Regions from separate parts of the Homo sapiens genome. Here regions 2, 3, 4, 5, 6 and 7 are each reported to be linked to region 1. The links are microRNA targets in miRTarBase. Many come from high-throughput screens and were not tested one by one. Region 1 holds a microRNA gene; each other region holds the end of a gene's coding sequence.
Evidence for each region. The annotated mature microRNA hsa-miR-15a-5p reads UAGCAGCACAUAAUGGUUUGUG and lies in region 1 at 1,424-1,445, opposite strand. An mRNA with a match to its seed (bases 2 to 7 or 8) in the 3' UTR can be bound and repressed. Matches are read on the target gene's strand: a 7mer-m8 pairs with bases 2 to 8, a 7mer-A1 pairs with bases 2 to 7 and ends in A, and an 8mer does both.

Region 1 (4,066 bases):
CCTCGGCCTCCCAAAGTGCTGGGATTACAGGCTTGAGCCACTGTGCCCAGCTCTACTTTTCTTTTCTTTTTTTTTTTTTGTTGAGACAGAGTCTCCCTCTGTCACCCAGGCTGGAGTGCAGTGGTGCGATCTCAGCTCACTGGAAGCTCCGCCTCCCAGGTTCATGCCATTCTCCTGCCTCAGCCTCCCGAGTAGCTGGGACTACAGGCGCCCGCCACCACGCCTGGCTATTTTTTTTGTATTTTTAATAGAGATGGGGTTTCACCGTGTTAGCCAGGATGGTCTTGATCTCCTGACCTGGTGATCCGCCTGCCTCGGCTTCCCAAAGTGCGTGAGCCACCGCACCTGGCTGTCTACTTTTATTTTTAATAAAAAATTTTAAAAATACAAAAAAGTAAAAAAAAAAATTAAATTATGTTGACATTTTATATCAATAAAACTACAATGATAATTTGGTCTTACTCTGAGTTAAATCTTGAATACAAAAAAGTAAACAAAGTAAACAAGACCTTATTTTTGACTTATCAAACAAAAATCTTTGGCTAAGGATTTAAGAAAACATTTTAATAAAAACATGAAAAAAATAGTATACCATTATAAAGTTAGAAGACATAAGACTAAGACCCCAATCTGTGATGTGTAGCAAATTATTTGAGTTTTGTGTTTCCTTAGCTATCCAATGAGTGGGTTGGTCACTTGTAAGGGTTTTTCTACCTTTAAAGTTATGGTTAAGTGTGACGTTTTGACAACCAGAATTTTAGGTATTTAATTCACATATTTTGATGGCTTTTCCCCTTCAGATATAAAGAAATATTCAGAAACAGTACTAAATATTGTCTTCTAAGCTCTGTTCAAAATGCTTAATATATTTTATATTTATCTGTAAAGACATATTTTAAAAGTAATTTCAAAACAAAGGGAAAACTAGAATTTGTTTTATCCCAAGTAAAAATCTGAATTAATGTCTATGTTGAATATAAATGTGCATTAAAATAAATTCCTCTAATGCTGCATAAGCTTTTTAAAAAAACTTGATGGCATTCAATACAATTATTAAATTGCAATTACAGTATTTTAAGAGATGATACATCTGAAAAATTAGTATTAATTCATTTTTACAGAATCATACTAAAAATAACAAGATTATCAATAATACTGAAAAGACTATCAATAAAACTGAAAACACATTAGTAACATTAATATACATTAAAACACAACTGTAGAGTATGGTCAACCTTACTTCAGCAGCACAGTTAATACTGGAGATAATTTTAGAATCTTAACGCCAATATTTACGTGCTGCTAAGGCACTGCTGACATTGCTATCATAAGAGCTATGAATAAAAAGAAATATATTTTCTTCAGAAGATCAGATCCTTGTATTTTTGAGGCAGCACAATATGGCCTGCACCTTTTCAAAATCCACAAACCATTATGTGCTGCTACTTTACTCCAAGGTTTTATTTTTTTTAAACACACATTCGCGCCTAAAGAATATAAAAAATATTTTCTTTCAGGAAAAAAAGAATGCATGTAAAAAAATCTATGTTTAAACATTATAACATTGATGTAATATGCATAATTATTTTTAAGGAGATTTTAAGTAGAATAATAAAACATTTCTACATCAAAAACTTAACTGAAGTCCATTCTGTGCCCAGCACAGTGCTATAGGTTAGGAAACACAAAGAATAAAATGAGGAAAAGAAAAGCATTTATTTGCTATGCCAACTTAACAGGGCAATACAACTAAATGCTTAAACTTTTGAATATATTCAATATATGAAGTTATTTTTCCTTGTATAAACAAACAAGTAAATTTATAAAATTTGATCTTTACCTTGGTAAAAGGAGAATTTACAAACATTTTGTTCCTTGCAGTACACCTTTCAAAAGACATCTTCATCAAATAGGTAAGACTTCACATCAAGGGAAAAACATGAAATGACATACAAGAGCTCAGTTTCAATAAACTTAAGCTAGCAAAATGCAAATATACTTTTAAAGAAAAATACTTTAATTCTAAATGTTAATTTTATTAAATATCTAATTAAGACATTTTAATTCCAAATATAGTTAAGAAAAAAAGCTCTAAACAAACTAATTCTCCCTTAAATAATTTGTTATTAATAATCTAAATATTTTACTTTCAACATTGATCTTCATACTAGAAGTTCTCTTAGAGTTGGATATCATTTGATACAGTAATTCTAAAATATGAATCCTTAAGTAATTCTAAAATATGAATCCTTGGGATGATGAGTTAATTTGGTACCCTGAGATGAGAAATAAAACAAATCCCATAGCTCTTAATCTTCCTATTCCCTGTTTCTGGCCCATTTACCAGGTAAGGAAGAAACTCCTAGTTTCCACTTTCTCAGATGTAGAAATGAAATTCCTTTTCTCTAAAAGATATCAGAAAATTGCCACCACTCTAGTGGTGCCACCATTCAAGCCTGGACAATCTTTTTTGCCCCATGTTCTCATCATTAAAATGACTATGCTAAAGTTACATCTATTACAGAATAGTAAGGTGATGTACACAACCAAAGCACTAAAATTTGCTCTTCCATTCTAATATCTAATTACTTATACAAAGCACAGGGTCACATTCCATATGAAATTTTTCTGAGTATTTTTCCCATTAATAAAAAATATATGTAGCTAATCTCCTATCTAAGCAACCTGGATTTCACATATAACTCTGCTCCTTATTGTCTCAAGTTTCTGCACAACGTTTTTTAAATTTTTATTTTTTCTTTTTTTAAGAGAGTAGTTTCCGTATCTTTTAGAGAAAAAGAAATTCATTTCTACATCTGAGTAAGTGGAAACTTTAGGAGTATACTTCCTTACCTGGTAAATGGACCGGAAATAGGTAGGGAATAGGAAGATCAAGAGCTACAGGATTTGTTTTACTTCTCATCTCAGGGTACTCTGTTGCCCAGGATGGGGTACAGTGCCATGATCGTAGCTCACTGCAGCCTTGACCTCCTGGGCTTAAGTGATCAGTCCACCTTAGCCTCCCAAGTAGCTGGGACTACAAGTGCACACACCACCATGCACAGCTCTTTACATTTTTATTTTATTGTAGAGACAAGGTCTTGCTATGTTGCCTAGGATGTCTTGAACTCCTGGCCTCAAGCAATCCTCCTGCCTTGGCCTCCCAAAGTCCTAAAATTACAGGCAAGAGCCACCATGCCTGACCTGCACTTTTTTTTTATTTTTTGAGACGGACAGGGTTTCACCATGTTAGTCAGGCTGGTCTTGAACTCCTGACCTCAGGTGATCCACCTGCCTTGGCCTCCCAAAGTGCTGAGATTACAGGGGTGAGCCACTGCGCCCATCCTGACCTGCACAATTTTTAACATGTAACCAAGATAAATCCGTTTGCATTCACTTGAGAAATATATAACATATATTTGTATTTATCAATTATATTAAGGAATTGTCCTTCAGGGTCCCCCTCATCACATACATTTTCCAGATAAAAACTTAAACATAATTTTTTTCAAATATAAAAGGTGCCTGTAAATTATTTAACAAATATTTTATTGAATATCTACTATGTGCCAGGCACTGTCCCAGTTATTACACTAGTTGGTAGTATACCAGATAGACAGTCTCTTTTCAGAAAGAGTAAAGTCATTTTAAGACAACTTAAAGTGAAGGATCTTAAGCTGAAGAATTTAGTGCCAGCAAAGGATGGTTTGAGTTTCAGAAAGACGTTTGGTTTTAAAAATGTCAAGATAACAGGAGAAGCGGCTTTGAGGCAGCAGATGAGTTCCCAGACACCATTAAGAAAATCGCTGGGGAGAAAGGACAGGTTTTTTTTTTTTTTTTTTTTGAGATGGAGTCTTGCTCTGTCGCCCAGGCTGGAGTGCAGTGGTGCCATCTAGGCTCACTGCAAGCTCCGCCTCCTGGGTTCATGCCATTCTCCTGTCTTAGCCTCCCGAGAAGCTGAGACTACAGGCGCCTGCCACCACGCCTGGCGAATTTTTTGTATTTTTAGTAGAGACGGGGTTTCACCATGTTAGCCAGGATGGTCTCAATCTCCTGACCTCGTGAT
Region 2 (4,066 bases), not on the chromosome of region 1:
GCATGATCTTAGGTGCAACTTTGAACTTTATCTTGTAGATTAAAGGTTCAAATTTGGGGGTTATCAGTCACTTATGGAGCTTGTTAAAAATGCAAATTCTTAGTTCCATCCTCCAGAGATTTTGATTCAGTAGAGCAGTGATAAGGCACAGAAATCTGTCTTTATAAACAAGCGCTCTACTGATGATCATTGATGCAGTGCATAGTAAGTACAAAATAATCTGTGTGTGTGTGTGTACAATAGAGTTTAAATTTTAGAAGTTCATAGTCTTATTGCAGTGATTTTTCACTGTGCCCTGTTAAAGATCATTTTCGATCGTTTAAGGATAAACAGTTTTGATCACATGAGTACTTTATCAATTGGGATTTTTTTGTTTGTTTCCTTAGATCACCATCTGGTTCAAGGACACCTAAAAGGTCTAGGCGATCACGGTCTAGATCTCCTAAAAAATCAGGAAAGAAGTCCAGATCCCAGTCCAGATCTCCACACAGGTCTCATAAAAAGTCAAAGAAAAACAAACACTGACGTAAATTTTTAAGATGCTGTCACTTATTGGAAATGCGATTTGTTTTGTGCCTGAACGGTCTGTTTTTTAAAAAAACAAAAAATCAAATGAAAGAGCATTCCTGGGGTTTTTTGTTTGTTTGTGTATGCATGTGTAAACTCATGAGCAACTGCATCTGTAGATCTGTCATTGTTTTATATTGTGTAAATTACTTTCATTGTGGCTATTTCTCAAGATGAAATTTTTATTGTTCTAATGGATTTCATCAGAAATGTGTATAATGGATCTGCTGACAGTAGTAGTATTTTGTTTTAGGATGTTGTGACTTAGCAAAAATAATACAGATGTCTTCCCCCCTTTTGTAGCTTTGACAATTTGAATTAGATTTCAAATAAAATCTGAACAGAAAACTATAATGTTGTTTTTTTGCCCCACCGGTGATATTAAGTCCCTTAAAGTCCTACTGAGTTTCACACTACTGTTGTGCTTCTTATACCTGATGCACTTTATAAGCCCCAGTGTTCAAGTAGCTTAAGTTTTATATTTACTAAGATGACTATCCAAATTAAGGGACCTGAGACTCCTATTTGGTGGTTTGCTAACCATTTGCTTTTGATAAGTTTCTCTTGGGTAATACTAATACCCAGATATCAAAGACTAGGTAGATATGGCATGGCGTTTTGTTAGTGGAATGCCTGGCTAAAACATTTTTTTCACAGAAGCAATATGATTTCCATACATCCAACCCATGTTCTGAGCAACTACTTACTTTTAGGGGGAAATTAAATATCTTTTCATTTCCTCTTCTATTATGAAAGAAGTTTATTTGTAAAACAAATTTTCTAACAAGGTTTGGCCATAGAATTCTCTTGTATGATCGTTGACCTTTTATAATCTTCTGTAGGCTATCTTTCAAACACTGGCATCAGAATATTTTTTATAAGTTTGTGTTTAAACAGCTTAGTTGGTCCCCCCCCACTCCCAAGAGACTTGGGTTTAGTTATAGCTTTAAGTAAAATTTAAAAATAAAATGTTTTTCAGGAAACTTCGTATCTAATGGTTTGTAAATTCAAGGTGCAAAAAGTTGATTTAAACCATTTGCAGAGTTGAACTCTATTATGAAAATAAATTTGCTACGGTATGAGGAAGAAATAAAACTTGTGTAATGTTGGTCATAATACTGCTATAAATATAATAAAGGGTTATGTAGAATTGAACTGACACTATTATTTGTGAATCTTGATTTCAGTTTTTTATGTAGGCACTTCATACACTGGTTTGATGGGTTTTTTTTTTCCTCCCTAAAAGAGAAAGTAGAAAACTATTCTAACAATGGATTATTTTGATTTAGCTTGCTTTTTAAAAAAATCTTTTCAACTTGTTTTACTTAATCTTGCCTAGTCACAAAATAAGATGTGCACCCATGGTTTGGAGAGTTCCTATATTAGCTGAGCAGTGAGATACACTATTTCCAAACGGTGCACACCTACAGTAGCTTTGGAAATGAGCCAATCACTGTTTTACTTAATGGTTCTTATCAGCATGCAAATATTGCTTGAAAGTTATTTCCTTATTCACTGTTTTGTTAGTCCATTTTGTTAGGAAACATTAATTCCTAAAAATTTGTTCAGAATAATTAAAAGTGAACATTTGGTGCTGATACTCAAAAACCTACAAATGTAGCCATTTAAAAAGTAACATGTTTTTCTCCCCTGCTCATTGCCTGGGAGAATGGAATTTTATATAACTACCTTTCTTTGCAAAAATAACGGTCGTGTCGAGTTGGTGGTGATTTTGGCATTCCATCTTGCACTGGTTTCTAGTATAGGCTTAGAAATAATTGGTCAGGTAATAATCTTTCCAGTCAAGTTGCAAGGGATGCTTATTTCTCTTCAAAAAAAGACATCCTGCGGGATTGAGTAGAAAATTTTAGGTCAGTTTTGGGTGCTTATTTGTAATATTTTTCCTACTACATTGGAGTTTAGCAGTTCTTTTTTTCTGGATCCAGATACAAGTGTCATGGTTTATCTTACAGTGGGTGAAACTGACTTTCTTTTGGTTGGGTGGGTGAGGATTTCTTAGGCCTGATAGAATATATATTCTGTGAAGTTTGTTAATGTACATATTAGATTGTATTGGATTTTTTTTTCTTGAATTGCAAATGGTATTATTAGATAGGTTATTTCCAGTTTTACTTCATGACAAATTACCTAGAGTAAACCTACTTAATACTCCCATGGATTCTATGAAAGTTTAATGGGATCAGAAATTGGTGACTTATAAGGGGGAAGATATTCTACCATATTTTTATAATAGCTTATTATTCATGTTTCTTGTCTGAAGGACACTCAAGTTACAGAGCAAAATTTCTATAGGTTGACTAGAATGTTCATAAGCATGGTCTTCCAGTTGCAGGAAAGATCATGTTCTATCTGTGGACACTTACTGTCCTCTACCACAGCTACGTGCCAGAGTTGTTTTCCACAGTTCTTATAAAGGGCATGACTTAGGCTCTTTACCCTCCAACTTAATGTTTATACACAGGGATTGTTTACTAGGTTAATGACATTTAACTCCCCTCTCTTCTGTAGGTGAGAGAAAATAAGTAAGTCTTGATCTGTTTCTTACCAAAGAGAGACAGACCTATGATGGAAAATGATCACGTCTCTGAATTTTTTCTTTAACGTTATAGTTCCTTATTACAGATAGTAAGCATATGGGAATTTCTGAGCTATAACATGTTGAGAAGTTAGAAATTAAAACTAACACAACAAAAGGCGCTGAATCAAAAGATCTTTGCTTTTATTTGGCTCAGAATGTTTTTGGCTTTTCTGCTAAAGATGGCAGAAATTACTCTACACAGACCTGATTTTTCTTTATTGCAGACCATTCTTGTGGGCTTACCCTGAGACTTTTATCCCAATTAGTGAATCTTGGAGGGAATACTTGCTTATTTATGACTTAGGTATTTCCCCCCAAACTTTAATATTCTTGAGCACTTGAAAATACTTTTGAGAAATTTTAACTGTGATTAAATTTAGGTTTATTAGAAATATTCTGTACACATTTGCCTCCATGGTGGCGTAAGTTCTGAAAAATTATATGACCGTGACAATAGTTTATCATCATCATTATTGTTATTCAAAATAAGGGTAAATAAATCTCTGTATTGCCAAAGTGACTTAAACTGTTCTGATGACCACACAGTGTGATTTCTTTAGCAGAGAAAGTTGGTTTTAAAAATAAATAGTACCACTTTTCTAAGACTGTACAGTTTACAAATAAGGTTTTTTTCTTTGTTGTTTTCCTCTTCTATTAAGTTTTAGTGAAAAGCCTAATTACAGAAAATTGTGCAGATACTAGTGAAGATACTAGTATAAGTTTAAAGGAACACGTGACTGTAAAATCTCACATTTACAAAGTGCTTGATCTCTTCATATTTCACACGCATGTTTTAGAATAGATTTTAGGGAGTGTTTAATTCATTATCCTTTTGACTTAAAATTTTTGTTACCAACTTCCTAGGACTTAGATAATATATAAATAAGTACAAATCCCAGG
Region 3 (4,066 bases), not on the chromosome of region 1:
GTCTCTGTTCCCTTTTAGAGTGACACCTATCTGCTCATCTAACTGCCTTCCTCCATTTCCCCTTCCTTGCTTCTCCCCTATGCAGGCATCCAGCAAGATGAGGACATCTATGAGGAAGGAAACTATGAGGAGGAAGGAAGTGAAGATGTCTGGGAAGAAGGGGAAGATTCGGACGACTCTGACCTAGAGGATGTGCTTCAGGTCCCAAACGGTTGGGCCAATCCGGGGAAGAGGGGGAAAACCGGATAAGGGTTTTCCCCTTTTGGGGATCACCTCTCTGTATCCCCCACCCACTATCCCATTTGCCCTCCTCCTCAGCTAGGGCCACGCGGCCCCACATTGCACTTCTGGGGGGTGACCGACTTCGTACACGGGTTTAAAGTTTATTTTTATGGTTTAGTCATTGCAGAGTTCTTATTTTGGGGGGAGGGAAAGGGGGCTAGTCCCCTTCTTTTGGCCCTCCGCCCCCGCAGGCTTCTGTGTGCTGCTAACTGTATTTATTGTGATGCCTTGGTCAGGGCCCCTCTACCCACTTCTCCCAGTCAGTTGTGGCCCCAGCCCCTCTCCCTGTGCTGTGTGGAGTGGACACCCTGACCCCCGAAGCGGGGAGGGCCGCTGTGGCCTTCGTCACAGCCGCGCAGTGCCCATGGAGGCGCTGCTGCCACCTTCCTCTCCCAAGTTCTTTCTCCATCCCTCTCCTCTTCCCGCCGCGCCGCTAGCCCGCCTCGGTGTCTATGCAAGGCCGCTTCGCCATTGCGGTATTCTTTGCGGTATTCTTGTCCCCGTCCCCCAGAAGGCTCGCCTCTCCCCGTGGACCCTGTTAATCCCAATAAAATTCTGAGCAAGTTCAGAGTGCCGCTTCGAGTCTTTTGTTTAGCCTGGTGCCCCGGCCCCAGCGGTCAGTTTCCCCCAGGCCCACACGTAGCCGCCTGGCCTACGCAGTATCCTGCAACATGCTAGTTGCGGGGGTTTGGCGGGTGGGGGGCGAGCTCCGCCAGGCCGCAGAGGCGTTGCGTCAGACCAATGCGGATCATCCTGGCCAATGGCAGTGCGAGGCTGAGGAAGCCCCTCCTTCTCCTGGCGCCCGCAGCGGACCCAGCCAGGTAGCGAAGGGCTTCCCACGCCTTCCCCTCTGGCGCATGCGTGTAGAGACATCCTGCGTCCTAGAACATCCATTTATCAGTGATTCATCTTTTAATTTATAGTGCGTCAAACCTTTCCTCGGGCCTAGAGTGAGCGGGGCGTGGGGAGCCAAAGGAATTCATTTTCCTCATTCGCATTTAGTAAAAATAAAACACGACTTCGGTCCGGATATCACAACCCAATTATGCAGGAGCGCTCTCTTGCCTTTGGGAAGGGGTGCAGAGTCCCTAGAGCTGGGCTTGGGGGAGAAGGCAGAAAAGATAGCTCAAGCAGAGAAGTATCCGTAGAGATAAAGGAAAAACAAAGGGGAATTAACTATGTAACTGTGCGAAGGGGTGGAAACGTAGGGAGTTGGACATCTGAAAAACAGGCTTTATCCGGGAGACCTTGGAAAGGCTGAGTTATATTAAATTTAGATACATAAATTTTATCTCGGTGGGCGCCAGGAATATTTCCCAGATTTGTTCTGGATCACAATAACTTTTATTCAGACATCCGAGTCGGTCTTTTATAACATATCTCCCGAACTTTCCATCCAACGCCTTTATTTTGCTGGAAGGCTTCAGATATGGTTAGATTTGCGTTTTAGAGAATGCCCTCTGCTGGCTGCCAGGAGAACTGACTGGAAGGAAGGACAGCAGTAAGGAAATAGACGCTAGACCTCAGGTGGGATTGGCAAGATGGGGGCGGATATGAGAGGTTTTTAAAATAAACTTAATTTCAGAACAGTTTTAAATTTACAGAATTATTGTGAAGATAACAGAGAAGTCCCGTATGTCCCACAGCCAGTTTTCCTTATTAACAGTTTACATTTCTGTGATACATTCGTCACAATTAATGAACCAATATCAGTACATTATTATTAACTAAGGTCCATACTTTATTCCAGTTTCCTTAGTTTTAACTTAATGTCCTTTTTCTGTTCCAGGATTCCATCCAGAATAGCACACTACATTTAGTCATCTTGTGTCCTTAAGCTCCTCTTGGCTATGACACTCTCTCAGGCTTTCCTTGTTTTTGATGACCTGGAGTCATTTGAGGAGTACTGGTCAGATATTTTATAGAATGTCCCTTAATCAGGATTTGTCTGATGTTTTCTCTCATGATTAAACTGAGGATATGAGTTTGGGGAAGGAAGACCACAGAAGACAAATGTCATTCTCACTAGATCATATCAAGGGCATGTACTATCAATGTGATTTATCACTGTTGATGTTAACTTTGATCACCTGGCTGAGGTAGTGTCTGTCAGGTTTCTCCACTGTAAAGCTACTCCTCTTTCTCTTTTTCCATGCTGTACTCTTTGGAAGGAAGCCAAGTAAGCGCAGCCCGTGCTTAGGGAATGAGGAGTTATGCTCCATTTCCTTGAGAGGGAAGTATGTACATAAATTAATTGGAATTCTTCTGCAAGAGCAATTTGTCTATTCTATGAGAGCTTTTAAGATGTTGGACTCCACAGGCTTTAGATATGGAAGGAGAGGGATTCAGAGGAGTCAAGATGACTGCCAGGTTGGTGTGAGACCTTTGGCAAGGCCCCTTCCCTCTCTGGGCCTCCTCTGTGAGATGGTTGGAATACCAGATCCTTGACATGTCTCTCCAATGATTCTGATAAATGTTTTGGGGGGGACAGGATGGAGGCTTTGATGTGCTGTCAGAGGTGGGCAGGGAGGACTGAGGCCCAGAAAGGGGAATGTCTTGCCCAAAGTAACACAATACCTCGAGGCCAGAGCTGAGAGTGCAGGATCCCAGAGAAAAGAGACATCTACATGCAATATCTGGAGCCAACCCCAATGAGTATGCGGTGAAGAGGAGGGGAGGGGAAAGCAGCAGGGGCAAAGGCAATGGAGTAGGCCGGAGTAGGCCAGAAAGAGGTCAGCCTGCCAAAGGATCCCAGCCAATCAGAGCCAGAGTAGCCAGTCTGGTTACTCTTGCCTCAGTCTGCCCTACCTCACAACATGACTCTCCTTGTCCTCTCTAGAGGGCCTCAGTTTTCCTATCTATAAACTGAGGCTTATCGTGCAGGGGGATCAGTCCAGGAGAAGCAACCTGCCTAAGGTCTCAAGACAGAGTCTAGCCTTGAAGCAGGTCTCTGAAGTCTGGCCTTCACTGTGCTCTTCCCTGATTCCTCTCTGTCCCCCCAATCAAATCCCCAGCCCCTCATCCTGGCATTTGAGACTCTTCTTCACCCACCCTGTTAGAGAGGGCCTCTGGTCTTCATCTTCAGTGATGCTCTTAAGAGTCAATCATAGTATTCTAGTATAGTTGGCCAGGGTGCTCATGTCCTCGGCTGAGCCATGTGAGGACAGGATGTTCTTTGCCCAGAGTAACATCTTGTTCCCTGTGCCCTCACTCTTCAGTCTGGACCTCCGAAAGAGAGGGCTGTTCTAGGTCTTTAAGGTCACATCTAGCTCCAAGATACTGTCTTCGCTGAAGGCCAGAGAAGACAGGCCCCATTGGCTGAGACCTTAAACAGAAACCAGGAGGATGAAGAGTCATGGGCCCAATGTGCCCTAGGGCCTGTTCCCATGTTGAAACTACTTGTCTTCATATGCTTCCTAGCTTGCCCTCGCTCCTTTGCAGCAGAGGGCCCTGCTCCTGGGTGGGAGGTTCCTGGGATTTCCTGGGACCAGACCTTTAAAGTGCCACCTACTTCTGTGAGTAGAATCGGATTGGCAGGGACAAAACTAGATTCAAGAATGTCCCTCCTTAGGTGACCCAAAGGGCTGGCACTGGCTCCCCCAGTTGGGGGTGTGCAGGATGGTTGGGAAGGAATCCTATTATTCATTCAGTAAACACTTATGAGTACTTACTGTGTGCCTGAAGTACTGAACTGGGTGATAGGGATACAGCAGGGAAACAAGATAGAGCAAGTCTTTTTTTTTTTTTCTTTGTTGCCCAGCCTGGAGTGCAGTGGCACAATCTC
Region 4 (4,066 bases), not on the chromosome of region 1:
CTCTGTGAAAGCCTTCTCCTTGGATCCAATTAAGGGACCCACAAACCAACAGATCCACCATCCTACAAAAGGTTTAGCCCCCTCAGAAGCTGTGTGACCTCGGGCTAGTTACCTCTCCTCTCTGAGCCTGCTTTTATTTATCTACAAAATGTGAATTGTAATAGTACCCATAATGATACTTCTAGGTTGTTTGACGTGCATTAGTGAGCGATGACCCGTGGGAAGCTTCTAGCTTCTAGTCAATTAAGCCCTGGTCCCCGTGCTCTGCCTAAATCCAGCTCCCTACCCCACCCAGTCCTCCCTCCCCACCGCCGACGGGGAGCGCTCGAATTCCCTCCTGCTGGGCGCGAGGGAGGGGGGGCGTCCCGTGCCCGCTGCCAGGCCCTAGTTCTGGGGGCCGAGCGATCCCAAGGCCTTGCCGAGCTTCCCCGGGGATCAGGTTTCTGCTGACGCGGTGCCAGGCACGTCTGCTTCCAGGAACCGGCAGCCGCTTTTAGCCGCGGGCCGCACATGAAAGGGCTGCAGTCGGAAACGTGACGTTGTGTCAACAGGCGGGGCAGGTCAGCGCTGGGTGAGACCATCCCGGCAGGCCCGGCGGATCACGCCCTGTCTGAAGGCGGCCAGATGCCCAGCCTCCGCTCCCCTGCCTCCTGCCACCTCTCCTTGGCCCCGGAGCCAGCGCTTCGCCCCCTGACACTCACACACCCCGCTTTTTAAACAGAAGTCCTCTTTGTCCGCAGTGGGCATTAGGCTGGGGTGCGCGCCCCTCCCCCGCACCTCCCTCTGAGCGCATTTGGATGCCGCTAGAACTGGGCTAGAAGAGAGGTTAAGGGCGAGCTGGAAGCAAAAAATGAAGTGGAGGGACAGCTGCAACTTGAGGCGCTGTTTGACAGGGGCAGGTTCCCATAGCGGGATTCTGGGTTGACTGTGTGTGGAACCCTCAAATCTTTTTTTTTAGTTCAGGTTGCTCCAACCACTTCCTCCTTTCCCCAAAGCTACTCCTCCTGCAGTGGCCTGGGAAAAAGAGAGGGTTATGCAAAAAGAGTTTGGTCTTGATTTTTCAACCCCCGGCTATATCACCAGGGTAAGTTTGATTTGTTGGGTTTTTTCCAAAAAAGTCTAGCTAGAGAGGTCTGGCAACTCATGGAGCAATTGAGGTGTTTCACAGGCATGAGACCTGGAAGCCCAGGCGTTGGGCTGGGAGAAAGAGTGGCTTACAGAATTTGCCATCTGCCTGCTCTGGGACTTGTGAGAAGGGCTCGGAATTCTTATTTTATCTAGTCAAAAGCAGGCGTGGAGAGGGAGGTGATAGACCACCAGCTATTGATGCCAGGCTTCCACCTCCTGGTCCCGGCTCCTTGCACAACAGCCTGTGGCCTGGGGACAGTTACGTGCATTCCATATGCATCCAGCACAAGCAGACAATGCTCACTTTCACCTGCTGGCCCATCAGGAGACAGGGAAGGTGACATGTGAAGCAAACAGTCTTCATGGTCAGGTGGAGCCTCTGCCTGGCTAAGAAATCCCTAGGGGCAGCTTCCCTGCTGTACTCCAGACAACCAGGGAGTCCTGGCAGACTGGGATGCTTTGGGAGCCGGAGCGTGTTGAGTCAGGCGCTGGCCATCAGGAAACATCAGGACACCTCTGACAGGGAGTATCCCACAGGAATGTTGCAAATCAAGGCAAAGGAGAGAGGCAAAAATACACGACAGGGTCATTTCCCACCTTTCCCATGGAATTTTTTTTTTTTTTTTTTAAATAAGAGCACTTGTCGAAGGAACACCCAATATGCATTCACGCACAAACATACCGGAGAGGAAGTCCAGGAAGGATGTAGAAAATAATTATGGAATGTTGCCTCCAGCAGGAATAAGACAGGATATGGCAAATCCATTAGACCTTGCTAGATTTGAAAAAGCTAGACTGCTTTGGCAAAGAGGTGCTATCCTAGCATCAATTAGTATTGCATAATAATCCAGTAAATCTTTTCTCAATGTGCCTCTCCCTCCAGCAGGCTCCCCAGACACTGCTGCCCACGGTGTCATACCTTGGTTTTCTGTCAAGTTCCAAGGACCACGATGAAAGCAGGCAGGGGAAAATATGCTTTTTACTTAACTCTGGAAAGAGGTAGAGGATGATCATGAACCCCTGGCAAGGGTTAAACAAAAATTGAACCAATATTTACCTGCCAGGTTGACTAAGCTTATTCTGATTGAATACAAAGCACATGAAAAGCTGAATGAAATTACACTGAGATTAACTGGTTTGCTTCAGCCAAGAAAGAAGGACATGGGAGTCAGCCATATCACACCAAGTGAGCTATTTTAAAAAACTCAGGAGACCATCTTTCTCTTCCACAGGAAAAGAATTATTTTATTAAGTATTTTAAAACAACTACTTAACATTTACTCATAGATAAAAATATTTACAATTTTACACCTTCAGGAAGGCTCCAAAATATAAACACTGTACCTCTCCCTAGAGAAAAAAAAAATTATTCTTCTCTTCAAAAACAGGAATACATTCATTTTTTCTCACTGTGTGAATCAAGTAATTATACAAATAAACATCTGAAACATTTTCCTTTTTAATATATTTATATAATATATATTTATAACAGCTTTACAAATAAAGGCAACGACTTAATACCAAAATAAAAACAGGAAAAGAAAAAGTTAAAACACGATCAGCAATCAGGCATAGTGCATTTTGAAAAGCTGCTGCGGAGCTGGCTGGACACATCGGGAAAACAAGTACTCTGGACCAAAAATAAAACTTCTTTGAAGGAGACGGAATCCTTTTTAGCAATAAGGACACTCCATATGCCGTTGGGCAAGAGGAATTAGCCTACAGAAAGGATCTGGCGGTGCCAAGGCTTGGTTAGGCCTTTGAGAAGCTAAGCTTGGTTAAAAGGAGTTTTAGGATGGAATTGAAAACTGAGTCTAGTTCTGTTTGAAGGGGGCAGCTTTTTACTCAGCTTTGTGCACTTTGGGGTGCTCGCTCGGGGTGTCCGCATTTCTCAGACCTTGGTTTGGTTCCCTGCACAGTAAGTACTAATGGTTAGGCCTAGAAACAGGTGCCAGAAGCCCAGGGAACTCCTCCCTCCCTCCGGGGCAGCTCAGCTTGTACAAGGGGCCCATTTTCAGTTCCTTAGTAAGCTAATCACTACGAAAGCCTGAGTAGGGAACTACATTCTCTTTATTCTTCCGAGGCAGGGGTGGGGAGCAGACCTGCGGAAACCTCCCCAAACCACTACCGTGCTATGCCAGTGCCTGCTACCTCCCCATGTTAGCAGAAAGCTCGGTCTGACTGCTCTCTCTCCCCGACGTCTGGTGAGTCACGTCGACAATAAAGGCAAAAGGGTGGGGTCCTAACAGCTGGTTGGGAGCTGAGCCCTGGAAAGCCCTCTTTTGAAAGTACCTTCTGATCAAAGCCACAGACCCAGCTCCCAAACTGAAGAGTGACTCACAGACCAAGACTTTGAAGCTTTTGAAAATCCAGCTGATGTGTATCGAAGGGGGCTATTCTCTGGGTGGGGAAAAGCCCAGACGTCTGCTACAATCCCCCCCAAGTCTCCTGATGTCAAGCAATCCTTCGTGACTTCCCTATGCCAAAAGGAGCTTTAAAGTCCTATACCAACACGCAGGCACACATGTGCACGCACACGCACATACACACACACACACACACACACACACCCTGAATCTGCTCTCCATGCCTCAGATTATCTCAGTATACACAATGCAACAATCTTGCAGCATTCACAAAAACTTTTTTGTTGCTTTTTAGGAAGTAGCGAGGAAGGAAAGCAAAGCAGCAGGATCCCCTAGAGAGTTTAGTCTTTGGTTTCTAAGTTTAAAGGGGGGATTGGCTTCAGAGCTTGGAGCAAGACAGAAGAGTCGACGGACGGATGAGCTGGCAAGGGAGAAGGGAGTCTCTGGGGCATGAGCAAGGGAGCCGAGATCTTGTCTGGGTTCATGAAGCTAGAGAGGGCTGCGGCAGAGGCGTTGAGGCCTGGGTATAGCACTGGCACTGAGGTGGGATACCAGCACTTCTCCAGCATGGG
Region 5 (4,066 bases), not on the chromosome of region 1:
CATGGAGACACAGACACACAGGAGAAGGCGGCAAGAGATGGTGGCAGCGATCGGAGCGATGCTCTTGTGAGCCTAGGGAGCCAAGGATTGCCAGCTGCCCCCAGAAGCTTGGAAGAAGCAGGGAACAGTTCGTCCCTCAGAGCCCCCAGAAGGAACCAACCCTGCCTGCAGCTGGAGTGTGGCCTTCAGAACTCTCAGAGGACACTTGGCTATTGTTTAGCCACAGTGTGTGGTGTTTTGTTACGGCAGCCCTAGGAGAAGGATGCAATCTCCAGGATCACTGTCAAGGGAAGACAGCAAAGAACAGAACAGTCAGGACCTCGGCCACACTTTGTAGGGGGTGCAGATGTCCCTCCGCTGCTCCATGCTGGCACTTGCCCAAGATGTGTTGGATGCCCTCTGGGAACTGGAGACTGTCCTCGACTCAGGAGGAGAGGCTGGCCCCTGGGAGGTGGAAGGAGGTTTTCCTCTTCACTGCACAAGCCTGGATTCTGGTAGTATTTTTAGTTTTTAGCACTTCATATATCACTTATTCCAAATCAATTGAAATCAGAGGCCGGGCGCAGTGGCTCACACCTGTAATCCCAGCACTTTGGGAGGCTGAGGCGGGTGGATCACTTGAGGTCAGGAGTTTGAGACCAGCCTGGTCAAGATGGTGAAACCCTGTCTCTAATAAAAATAGAAACATTTGCCAGGTGTGGTGGTGCACGCCTGTAATCCCAGTTACTTGGAGGCTGAGGCAGAAGAATCACTTGAACCCGGGAGGTAGAGGTTGCAGTGAGCTGAAAGAGCACCACTGCACTCCAGCCTGGGCAACAGAGCAAGACTCAAAAAAAAAAAAAAAAAAAAGTTCAAATCAGGGAGAAAAGAAAATGTAAAATAAATTCATTAAAAACAACAACTCTACTCCCTGCCTGGCAGATGTGTTGGTCATGTGAGGCCGCTGAACTGGGAAGTGGGAGGGAGCTAGAAGCCCCCCGCCCCTTCACCTTGCTCCTTGCCGCACCACTCCTCACTTCTGAAGGGCTGGCCTGTCTGTGTGCTGTCCCCAGAGGGCAGGCAGCCGCAGGGTTCGTGGAGAAGCCCCAGGGTGAGCAGGGCTCAAATTAGTTCCTGACAAGGGTCACGTTGGGGCCTTTCTAGAGAGTGCAGATGTGTGGAGAGATCCAGGGTGATGGGGACCACAGCCACAGGCCACACTCAAGCTGCCCTGAGAGATTCAGCCACCCAGGCCTAGAGAGGCAAAGGGGCTGCCAAAGCTGGACATGGAGGAGCTAGGGAAGGGGCCCCTCTCTGTGCCCATGGCCAGGGTGTTTCCCCCATCCCTGGGAGCTTCCCCTGGTTTATTTCAGAGTAAAGAGAAGCGAGAGAGGCCAGGAGACCCCAGGGGTCAACAGCCAGCTTCCTCCCCGCCTCCTGCCTCCCTGTAAAGCCCAACTTCCCAGGCTAGCACTAGGGTTAAACAGGCACAGGAACTGGGGCCCCTCCCCGACTCCCCCTTGTCAGTGGGCAGAGCTTCTTGGCTCAGCACTTGGGAGGGAAAGCCTCCAGGGCTGGTGGCTGCAGAGGCTCAGGATGCCAAGGGCTGACTCCAGGAGGCTGAACAGAACTGCAGGTGAGGTGGGCAGTGAGACCCCCACACCACACCTTTGGCAAAGCTCCAGGATGCCCTCTTCCAGGAAGCCCTCTCTGACCTCCTAGTTTGGGTTAAGTACAGTTGTGCCCAAGTTGCCCGGGTGGCTGAAATGGTCAGCTCCACTCAGACCTCCCCTCTTCCAGGAAGCTGTTTTTGGGACACACCCTGCCCCTGCTGCCCCGCCCGCCAGTGCCCCTCACCACAGGCCTCTCTCTCTCATTGCTGGGATGATGATAGCAGAGGGGCATCTGCTGAATGGCCAGGCTGCACCAGCGTGTTCACGCCCTTCATTAGCTTGCCTTGCAGATGAGAAAACAGGCTCTCAGATGTATCCGCAACTGCCCAGGTCACATGGCCAAGGCTGCTGTCAGGGTCCAAGGGCACACGCACCCCTGAGCTGGCCCCTTCGACTCCAGGGCAAGGGTGCTGAATGAAGCCCTTTCCTCCACCATATGCAAAGGCAGCCTCGCCACTTAAAAAACAAAGAACACTTTATTCCCTTGACAGTTTCTGTACAGCGACACCAGGCTGTGCAAAGCCCAGTGTCGTCTTCACTGAGCACATTCCCCAGGACGCCTGGTGCAGCCCTCCTCTGCCCCAGGCCCCAACTAGCCACCCCTGTGCCCACTAGCAGGCCCTGTGCCTTCACAGGGATGAAGCCCTGGCACTGAGAATGCCTGGGAGGCACCGTTTGCTGGGGAGCAGAGGGACTGACCTTTGGCTTCTTTGTGGCTGGAGGTGTTCCAGGCCTGGTGAGGGGGTCCCATACTGTTCTCTGCTGAGCCCTCTGCACACTTTGGGGGATCCTGGCTGGCGGTGGTAGGTGGGCCGGAGACTCAGTTGTCCGTCAGCTGGCCATGTCCCCATTTTATGGACAGGCAGCCTGAGGCCCAGAGGCGGAAGGATTTCTCCTTGCCACAGCTGCATCACACTTGAACTGTCCAGACCTCCACCGCTGGCCTGTTTGCTCCCCACCCTAGTCCCGCAGGCTGATATGGTGCCTCCAGCAGACTCCATGGCTTCCCGGAGGGTGCAGGGTCCCCAGTTCACCCTCCAGCAGGAGTGGCAGCAGCTGGGGTACCCCTAGCAGTGGCATGTGGAGAAGCTGGGGTATGCAGAGGATCCAGTTCTGTGACACCAGGAGGCACACCAAGTTTTCCTCTGTCCCTAACACAGACCAGAGGGGTGGCCCACCACCCCCCCGGGTGGAGGATGTGTGGAGTTAGAGGTCCCTGGGTGGCCCCTTGGTTGGCCATCAGAGACCCCCGGGAGCCAGCCTGCAGGGCAGGAGCACAATGACGTGGCCAGGATCCCAGAAAGGGGCTGGAGTGTCTGCCTCAGTTTCCAGGATAACGGTGCAATGGCCTCAGCCAGGCCAGGTGCTGGCTGCTGCTGGGAATAATCTCTGAGCTTCGTGACTCTACAGTGTGGGCATGAGGGTCCTTATTTCATAGATGAGAACACTGAGGCAAGTGCAGTTCTCGGCCAAAACTACCCAGCTGATCAGCAAAATTCAGCCCACGTCTGATAGACTCCACAGCTCGCAGCATCCCAGCAGGAAGCAGGGCAATCGACTCAGGGGCCAATTTATGTCCCAGGTTTCTGAGAAGGAGCCCTGGGGAAGGAGGGCGGGGTGAGCGTCACAGGCTGGAGGGCTGCGCCAGGGCAGGCCCCGCAGGGGCGGCGGGCACAGCCTCGCCCTCGGGCCCGGCCTCCTCGCCGCGCGCGTAGGTGAGCACCACCGTGACGGTGGCGAAGGTGGCAGCGTTGACGGGGAAGGCGCGCAGCAGCGTGGACGCCAGCCCCCGTGTGAAGACGCGCCAGCCCTCGGCGCGGTAGCTCTGGTGCACGCAGTCCAGGATGCCGCGGTAGCGCGGGGCGCCCCGCAGTCCGTCCGCCTGCAGCCGCGACTTGACCACGTCCACAGGATAGGTAGAGAGCCAGGACACGATGCCTGACGTACCGCCCGCCAACAGCAGCTTGGGCACCAGCAGGCGGTCGCCCGGCTCGCAGCCCAGCGCCCGCGTGAGAGCGTCATAGGTGAGGAAGTAGACGCCGAAGCTGGGCGTCTCACGCAGCAACGTGGACACCATGCCCCGGTTGACGCCACGCAGACCCTCGTGCCCGTAGATCTGCGCGAGGCAGTCCAGCGAGCCCTTGTAGGTGCGCGCTGGGCCCGCGTCCTGCAGCTGCAGCCGCGTCTTGGCCAGCTCCATGGGGCAGCAGATGACGCACTGGATGGCGCCCGCCGCCGCACCTGCCAGGAACTGGTTGAGGGGCGAGTCGTGGCCCAGGGCCCGGAGGGTGTTGCCCTGCACCCCGAACACCAGCGCGTTGATGAAGGTGAGCCCCATGAGCGGCGAGCCCAGGCCCTTGTACAGGCCCAGCACCTGCGGGGACAGAGACGCCATCAGAGCCGGCAACGCGCAC
Region 6 (4,066 bases), not on the chromosome of region 1:
TGTCCAGGGTCTTAGATGTAGAAATGTGGCTTGGGAGACATTGGCCCATGACCCTAACACCAGGCGTGCAAATCCCCTTGGAGCCCAGACCCAGTGGCAGCCGGGGTTGCCGCCCACCTGCCTGTGCTGTGCACTGGGTGCCTTCTGCGCTCAGCTGCGGCCTTGTCTGTGAATCCGGAGTGCGGAGCCAGCGGGTGCCTGTAGTGGGTGGAATTGGGGTCTGCACTTGCCCCTCCGCCCCCAGGTGGGAGTCACCTGGAGCGTGAAGGGACGTGTCTCATCCCCAGTGTGTCGGACCCTGGAGACACAGCCGCAGAGCAGCCCCTTCTCATGCATGGACCTCACCTACGTCAGCCTGCTACTCCAGGAGTTCGGCTTTCCCAGGAGCAAAGTGCTGAAGGTAAGGGTGCCCTCAGGTCACGCCCCAGCCCCTTTATGGAGTGAGGGGCCTAGAACCACTTCTCCAGTTGCTGGGGTCATGTCCCCCAGCCCATCCCTGGCTTCCAAGGAGCCACAGCCTCCTGATGCACAAGGCTTTCCTGTCTGTGTGATGGTCCCCTCTCCCTCTCTGTCTTTTCAAGCTCACTCGGAAAATTGACAATGTTGAGACCAGCTGGGCTCTGGGGGCCATTTTTCATTACATCGACTCCCTGAACAGACAGAAGAGTCCAGCCTCATAGTGGCCGAGCCATCCCTGTCCCCGTCAGCAGTGTCTGTGTGTCTGCATAAACCCTCCTGTCCTGGACGTGACTTCATCCTGAGGAGCCACAGCACAGGCCGTGCTGGCACTTTCTGCACACTGGCTCTGGGACTTGCAGAAGGCCTGGTGCTGCCCTGGCATCAGCCTCTTCCAGTCACATCTGGCCAGAGGGCTGTCTGGACCTGGGCCCTGCTCAATGCCACCTGTCTGCCTGGGCTCCAAGTGGGCAGGACCAGGACAGAACCACAGGCACACACTGAGGGGGCAGTGTGGCTCCCTGCCTGTCCCATCCCCATGCCCCGTCCGCGGGGCTGTGGCTGCTGCTGTGCATGTCCCTGCGATGGGAGTCTTGTCTCCCAGCCTGTCAGTTTCCTCCCCAGGGCAGAGCTCCCCTTCCTGCAAGAGTCTGGGAGGCGGTGCAGGCTGTCCTGGCTGCTCTGGGGAAGCCGAGGGACAGCCATAACACCCCCGGGACAGTAGGTCTGGGCGGCACCACTGGGAACTCTGGACTTGAGTGTGTTTGCCTCTTCCTTGGGTATGAATGTGTGAGTTCACCCAGAGGCCTGCTCTCCTCACACATTGTGTGGTTTGGGGTTAATGATGGAGGGAGACACCTCCTCATAGACGGCAGGTGCCCACCTTTCAGGGAGTCTCCCAGCATGGGCGGATGCCGGGCATGAGCTGCTGTAAACTATTTGTGGCTGTGCTGCTTGAGTGACGTCTCTGTCGTGTGGGTGCCAAGTGCTTGTGTAGAAACTGTGTTCTGAGCCCCCTTTTCTGGACACCAACTGTGTCCTGTGAATGTATCGCTACTGTGAGCTGTTCCCGCCTAGCCAGGGCCATGTCTTAGGTGCAGCTGTGCCACGGGTCAGCTGAGCCACAGTCCCAGAACCAAGCTCTCGGTGTCTCGGGCCACCATCCGCCCACCTCGGGCTGACCCCACCTCCTCCATGGACAGTGTGAGCCCCGGGCCGTGCATCCTGCTCAGTGTGGCGTCAGTGTCGGGGCTGAGCCCCTTGAGCTGCTTCAGTGAATGTACAGTGCCCGGCACGAGCTGAACCTCATGTGTTCCACTCCCAATAAAAGGTTGACAGGGGCTTCTCCTTCTCTGGGATTCCTCTCGTTGAGCGACAGTAGCATTTGCCCACCTGGCACCTGAGATCCCTGTTTACTAAACCTTAGAAAAGCTGCCAAAGGGGGTGGCGTATTTCCAGTCCTGTCGACATCCCTCTCGAGGACACAGCAGTGGAGGGCCCCTGGGGGCTGGGGCTGGTGAAGGGTCTGGCTGGTGGCCCCGGCCCTCCCAGCGTCTGTTGAGCACAGCTCCTCCTGTGCCAGGCCAGCAGCCCACAGCACGGCCAGGTGAGGCCTGGGCACATAACCTCGAGTGAGCTGCAAGTCCCCATGTCATTCTGTTCAGCAAGGATCTGGTTTTGGTCTGGAAGCGTCCCAAAGGTGTCGCATGCCAGGGAAACTGCAGACCAGCCCACATCCCGAGTGCTTGTGCCTGAAGCCCCCCCCAACCAACTGTCACAGGAGGACAGGATCTGGCCCTAGGGCCTCCCAGGGCTGCAGCGAATGCTGATGGAGCCACGTGGTGGAGGCCTGCACAGAGCAGGAAAGGACAAAAGACAAAAAGAGGAACAGTTTCCTCCCTCCCGCCTGGGCTGGGTCCCCACCAGCGCCTTTACTTCCATAATATCCACCAGCTTAAATATTTAAAGAACTCCGGAGGCTGAGAATCAGACGCATGAAGGTAAAGCCAAAATCAATTTGGTCCATTTAAAGAAGGTCGGTGACCTCATGCCTGAAAAAGGCAAACAACTGGAAGTTTTCCAAAAGTGCACCAAATAAGTCATGGAATATTTCTGGGCCCGGCAAAGTATGCAAGTCATTTCTCTCTGAGTGTCTTTTGTGATAATGAAGTAGGCTCTCATTTGTCAAAAATAGCTACACGTGCACATCGTAAAAGAAGCAAACTAGGGTTGCTTGAAAATTCTGTTCCCTCAGGATGTGTGCATTGACAAGCTCAGACAGGTCTCACACGCCCCACATGCCACCCCAGCCCGCGTACCCCACATCACTTAGCACCCATTGCTGCCCACTGAGCTGCCTCAGTCCTGCAGTCCCCGTGTTTGGATGGCAGGATCCCAGGGCAGTGAGTTTCAGGGCATAAGCAGACGTTGCCACGTTGCCTTCAATCCTACTGGACAAGCATCGGTGCTGGCCTCCCCCATGTCCTAACAGCTACAGCCAGTTTAATCTTTGCCATTCTGGCAGATTTAAAAAAATGATAACTGGTAGTTTTAATATGCATGGATCTAATTCATCGGGTATATCTAAGTTGTATTTCCGTGAAACATCTGTTCATATCCCTTGCCGATTTTCTATAAGATTGTCATCATTTTTTTGTTAATTGTAGATCTTTATTTATTAAGGAAATTATCCCATTATGATAGAACGTGTCCAAAAATTTATCTTTTTGTGACTTCTAGGTTTCATGTCATAATTAGGAAGGCTTCTCCACAGAGATAGTTTTAAAAGTTAACCAAAAGGTATTTTTATATTTTAGTTTCTTAACTTTTGTTAAGAAACTAAACGTGCCTGGCCTTGTTTTTTAATTAATTAATTACTTTATTTATTTATTTTTGAGATAGAATCTCCCTTTGTCACCCAGGCTGGAGTGCAGTGGTGCAATCTGGGCTCACTGCAGCCTCCACCTCCCAGGTTCAAGCAGTTGTCCTGCATCATCCTCCTGAGTAGCTGGGATTACAGGCACCCGCTACTGTGCCCGGCTGATTTTTGTATCTTTAGTAGAGATGGGGTTTTGCCATCTTGGCCAGGCTGGTTTTGAACTCCTGACCAGGTGATCTGCCCATCTGGGCCTCCCAAAGTGCTAGGATTACAGGTATGAGCCACCATGCCCTACCTTAACATTTTTAAATACGTTCAGGCACAACAAATCATTGTTGCAGGGTGAATTTTATTTTTAGAACCATTTCAGAGTCATCAGAAGGCAAATGTGGCCAGGCATGGTGGCTCACGCCTGTAATCCCAACACTTTGGAGACCGAGGCAAGTGGATCACTTGAGGTCAGGAGTACGAGACCACCCTGGCCAACATGGCGAAACCCCGTCTCTAATAAACATACCAAAAAAAGAAAGAAAAAAAAAGCCGGGCATAGTGGTAGGCTTCTATAATCCCAGCTACTAGGGAGGCTGAGGTACGAGAGTTGCTTGAACCCAGGAGGCAGAGGTTGCAGTGAGCCGAGATCGCGCCACTGCACTCCAGCCTGGGCAACAGTGAGACTCCATCTCATTAAAAAAAAAAAAGGTAAATGTGATATTCAGACTAGGGTAATACCAT
Region 7 (4,066 bases), not on the chromosome of region 1:
GGCGTGTGCCACCACGTCCCACTAACGTTTTTCTAATTTTATTTCTTTTGAGCCGGAGTTGCAGTGTCGCCCAGGCTGGAGTGCAGTGACGTCATCTTGGCTCACTGCAACTTCCGCCTCCAGAGTTAAGGGATTCGCCTGCCTCAGCCTCCCGAGTAGCTGGGATTACAGGCGTGCATCATCACACCTGGCTTTTTTTTTTTTTTTTTTTTTAAATAGAGACGAGGTTTACCATGTTGGCCAGACTCCCGACCTCATGTGTTGTGATTACAGGCGTGAGCCACTGCACCGTCTTTTTTTGTAATTTCAATAAAGACGAGGTTTCACCATGTTGGCCAGGATGGTCTCAAACTCTTGGCCTCAAGTGATCGACCCACCTTGGGCTCCCAAAGTGCTGGGATTACGGGCGTGAGCCACCGTGCCTGACTGTGATCATTTACTTAAATATTTGACTTTAGGTAATGAAGAATTAAAGTGGATGAAAATATTGCAATGCTATCAGGATTTATTGAGAATTGCTAAAGCTGAGTGGCTAGACTCTTAGTTCTAAAGAAACCTAATAGTGACTTGGTATATTTTTAACTGAAATGTAAGCTTGAAAATAGCACATTAAAGTCAAATTATGTGGCTTAAGACATCCTCTCAACAGCAACACAAATTCTAGTTCCTGTCTTTCCATTCTCTTTCCTGTTTGTCTGAAAACCTCAAATACCTCTTGTTCTAATTCTACGCTATTCCTTTAATTCCTTTCTCTTTGATACATTTTGCTTAATTTTATATTCTAATGTGCTTTTCCCTCTCAGACACGATAACCAACTATTCAAGATGCCATCTAATGCACTATGCCATTAAGTATTGTGGTCAGTGATTTTAAGTGTAATAAATTATCTTCAGGTTGAAAAGAGCATATGCAAAAGAAATGGATCACTACATCTTAACTAGAGGCATGGATCAAATCAACTTATGGTTGGTTTGAAAATGCTTTAAGACATATCAGGATTGACTTAAAACTAGGCTGGGCAGAGATGTAACACTATGTGGATAGAAGTGTTACAAACACACTAGCCATATTTTAATTAAAATAGAGTTTATTAGCTTTTAATATAAACATGAGAAATAAAAACCACATAAATTGTAGCATTCTTTTCAAAATAAAACTGCAATCAATACTTGAATCTCCAAACTCTGAATTCCATAAACAATATTTGTTTTTTTGAGGTGGTAGATTGTAATATTTGTATACCATTATTTATCATTTATGTCTCTGTCCTTTAAAAATGATGGAAACTGCAGCACAATATGATGTGAAGCATTGCTATAATAGAGGAAGTACTCCTGTCCCAGAAATGCTTTGTTTATAAGCAAGATTCCTAGGATTAGATTTGAGAAAGTAGGAGAAACAGATTTCACATAGTTGAGAACACTAACCTCTTCTTAGTATTTCAAATTTAGGTGACATTATCGGTCTCCTAAAATTATTTGCTCCTTGCCTTTTAAAGCCTGAAGAGTTCCTAAGGGTTATGTAAGTATTTCTTAAATAGCAGGACTTAATGGGACACCTACAGCTTGGTAGCATGTAGGATGATAAAACAGCTGTTCATATCACCTTCTATAATTAGGGTCCAATTCCTTTTATTACATGTTAATTAACACTGCTCTTCAAAATCTTCCTTTAAAGAAACTGCGGTAATCAAAGCATATAGAGCACAGCTCTGCGGGTAACTACTTTTAAAAAGAGGGCATTTTATGGAGATACAAGGTATTCCAAAAGTTCAGTGTAATTTTAAGCTTTGATACTTGTAGAAATATAAATGCTACAAACCTTTACAAAACCTTGTCTGAACATTTTTCTTCTGCTTTTTTCTTTGAGACAGGGTCTGGATGTCGCCCAGGTTGGAGAGCAGTGACATGATCATGGCCCACTGCAGCCTTGACCTCCTGGGCTCTACTGATCCTCCCACCTTAGCCTCCAGAGTGGCTGGGACTACAGACACATGCCACCATATCCAACTATTTTTATTATTTTTTTTTACAGGCAGGGTCTCACTATGTTGCCTAGACTGGTCTTGAACTCCTGCACTCAAGCAATCCTTCCACCTCAGCCTCCCAGGGTACTGAGATTACAGGCATGAATCACTATGCCCAGCCCATTTCTTTTGCATTTAATTTTGCATTTTTCTAAGAGATGGGGTCTTGATAACGTTGTCCAGGTTGGAGTGTAGTAGCTATTCCTATAGGCACCATCATGGTACACTGCAGCCTCCAATACTTGACCTCAAGCAATCCTCCAGCCTCAGCCTCCCAAGTAGCTGGGACTATAGGCGTGCACCACCACACCCAGCTTCATTTTGCAAATTTTGAATATAAAGCTTTTAATTTTTTGTTTCAGTCAATGTCTGCTATCAAGAGTGACCGAAACAAAAAATTAAAAGCTTAATATTCAGGAGACAGGTGCCAGTTGCACTTGTAGTCCCAGCTACTTGTGTGGCTGAGGCTAGAGGATGGCTTGAGACCAGGAAGTTCTAGGCTGCAGTGAGTGCACAATGATTGCACCTGTGAAAAGCCACTGCACTCCAGCCTGGACAACGCAGTAAGACCCCCATCTCTTTAAAAACAAACAAAACAAAACAAAAAACTTTCAAATCATGTTTTTTAAAGGTTTATAGCATTTATACTCATGCTGCAGTGCCTTGGAGGGCCCAAACTATATTCAAGCTTAAAACTGCTTCACTTTTTCTCATCGTCACTGAACCACCATGTTGGTTGGCATTATGAAAATATCTTTTAATACATTTATTTAGCAAGAGAAAAATTATCAGAAAATGAGAAGCACCATTTATAGTTCACAAGAAATGCAACATGGACTCCAATAGAAGTAGATATCAATAACTGATACTTCCTCTGTTTATGACCCCAAACATGCTAAAATGCTAAAGTAATGCTTGCAAAGAATATGAATGACAAATGTTATCCAGCAGCTTTTTGGTTTAAAATGATTGCCAATGACTAGCAGCTTCAATGGTAACAGTAGGGAGGAAGAACCCTTCAGTACCTAACAACGCTGCTGTCTGCTCCTAAGTGGCTTTAGTTAGAGTCCCATGTTTTAATGGTAATACTGCATTGATTTTAAAGGCATATGCAGCAAAATGCGGGGGGAGGGAGAGAAACTGGAAGAAACATAAAAGTTATATGGTTAGTGTCTTTAAAGTCTAAAAATTTAAACTATTGTTTAAAAAACCTTACATAGTTCACAGCTATCGGCCCACACAGTAAGCAAATATCTGTGTGTAGGATGGGAGCCTTCACTTTGGAGTGGTTTTTGTAACTCTGTTTACATTAAAAAGGACAGAAGAGTGTTTTGTTGCATTGACAAGGTCCCATTCTTTCCTGTGGAGTATAATCCTTGTTGTCCATGAGTCTCTTGAATTTGAGATCTTTCCTTTTGATGAAAACACTAATTTTGCTGGTTTTTGAGCAGGAAAGGTGGTATTTCTCCAGTCTTTGTAGATGAAGGTCCCATGACGTTATAACCCCTCATTTCTCCTTTTAAGAGAGGATGGCTTTAGAGCGCTGAATACCAATGAAGTTATCAGCACTGAAAGACCTTCTCATAGCGGCTCTACACAAGTCTTTGTCTTCACACAATCTAGAAATAGCCTAGGAAAGTCAATCAAATAGAAAACAGGTACAATTTTAAAAAGGGTTCCCGCCTTTGAAAGAGCACCATTGTGAAAGCCACACATGTGGACTCCTTTAGATAGTTCACAGTTACAGCTACTTTGGCTGAGTTTTACACTGCCAGGTTGTGGGGACACTACTTCCTGACAGTTCACCAAGGTAATATCCTTTAAGGGCTATGGTTAGATTCCCAGAGAACAAAGGGGAATTTATTATATTATTAAAAAACTGGATTCCCAAAGATATCAAAGGTATTGTGATAGGGCTCCTAACAGCAATAGCATCTGTTATCTGTTAACTTATTCCTTAAATATAACAAACGTACACTTGTGCAAAAAAATGTTTATTCAGCTATTCAAATTCTACCCAATCCTTATTAGCTATTATA

Region 2: miRTarBase lists U2SURP as a target of hsa-miR-15a-5p. The part of its 3' UTR that is shown has no 7-base or 8-base seed match.
Region 3: the mRNA of TSPYL2 is a reported target of hsa-miR-15a-5p. Seed matches in the 3' UTR shown: 8mer at 483-490.
Region 4: the mRNA of BHLHE40 is a reported target of hsa-miR-15a-5p. Seed matches in the 3' UTR shown: 7mer-m8 at 3,813-3,819.
Region 5: miRTarBase lists SLC25A29 as a target of hsa-miR-15a-5p. The part of its 3' UTR that is shown has no 7-base or 8-base seed match.
Region 6: the mRNA of ENTPD6 is a reported target of hsa-miR-15a-5p. Seed matches in the 3' UTR shown: 7mer-m8 at 1,019-1,025 and 7mer-m8 at 1,405-1,411.
Region 7: the mRNA of CCNYL1 is a reported target of hsa-miR-15a-5p. Seed matches in the 3' UTR shown: 7mer-A1 at 3,008-3,014.

Annotation. Positions count from the first base shown.
Region 1 is chr13:50,047,744-50,051,809 of GRCh38, forward strand. It overlaps MIR15A (microRNA 15a), which reads right to left and starts at 1,458; the gene lies at 1,376-1,458. DLEU2 (deleted in lymphocytic leukemia 2) reads right to left here. Exons shown (of 14, transcript NR_152566.1): 6 at 1,841-1,919. MIR16-1 (microRNA 16-1) reads right to left here and starts at 1,318; the gene lies at 1,230-1,318.
Region 2 is chr3:143,055,926-143,059,991 of GRCh38, forward strand. U2SURP (U2 snRNP associated SURP domain containing) reads left to right here. Exons shown (of 28, transcript NM_001080415.2): 28 at 387-4,066. The coding sequence ends at 525. Among named protein-coding and RNA genes, the nearest start is that of U2SURP, 56 kb to the left of the region's middle.
Region 3 is chrX:53,087,691-53,091,756 of GRCh38, forward strand. It overlaps TSPYL2 (TSPY like 2), which reads left to right. Exons shown (of 7, transcript NM_022117.4): 7 at 86-850. The coding sequence ends at 249. Among named protein-coding and RNA genes, the nearest start is that of KANTR, 4.4 kb to the right of the region's middle.
Region 4 is chr3:4,983,462-4,987,527 of GRCh38, reverse strand. It overlaps BHLHE40 (basic helix-loop-helix family member e40), which reads right to left. Exons shown (of 5, transcript NM_003670.3): 5 at 2,205-4,066. The coding sequence ends at 3,836. Among named protein-coding and RNA genes, the nearest start is that of BHLHE40-AS1, 5.5 kb to the right of the region's middle. RefSeq lists enhancers at 45-942, 943-1,840, 2,829-2,888, 2,899-2,958, 3,389-3,568 and 2 more.
Region 5 is chr14:100,289,007-100,293,072 of GRCh38, forward strand. SLC25A29 (solute carrier family 25 member 29) reads right to left here. Exons shown (of 4, transcript NM_001039355.3): 4 at 2,110-4,026. The coding sequence ends at 3,277. Among named protein-coding and RNA genes, the nearest start is that of MIR6764, 14 kb to the left of the region's middle.
Region 6 is chr20:25,224,918-25,228,983 of GRCh38, forward strand. It overlaps ENTPD6 (ectonucleoside triphosphate diphosphohydrolase 6), which reads left to right. Exons shown (of 15, transcript NM_001247.5): 14 at 288-400; 15 at 582-3,158. The coding sequence ends at 680. Among named protein-coding and RNA genes, the nearest start is that of PYGB, 21 kb to the right of the region's middle.
Region 7 is chr2:207,753,179-207,757,244 of GRCh38, reverse strand. It overlaps CCNYL1 (cyclin Y like 1), which reads right to left. Exons shown (of 10, transcript NM_001330218.2): 10 at 1,071-3,657. The coding sequence ends at 3,547. MIR4775 (microRNA 4775) reads right to left here and starts at 2,438; the gene lies at 2,364-2,438.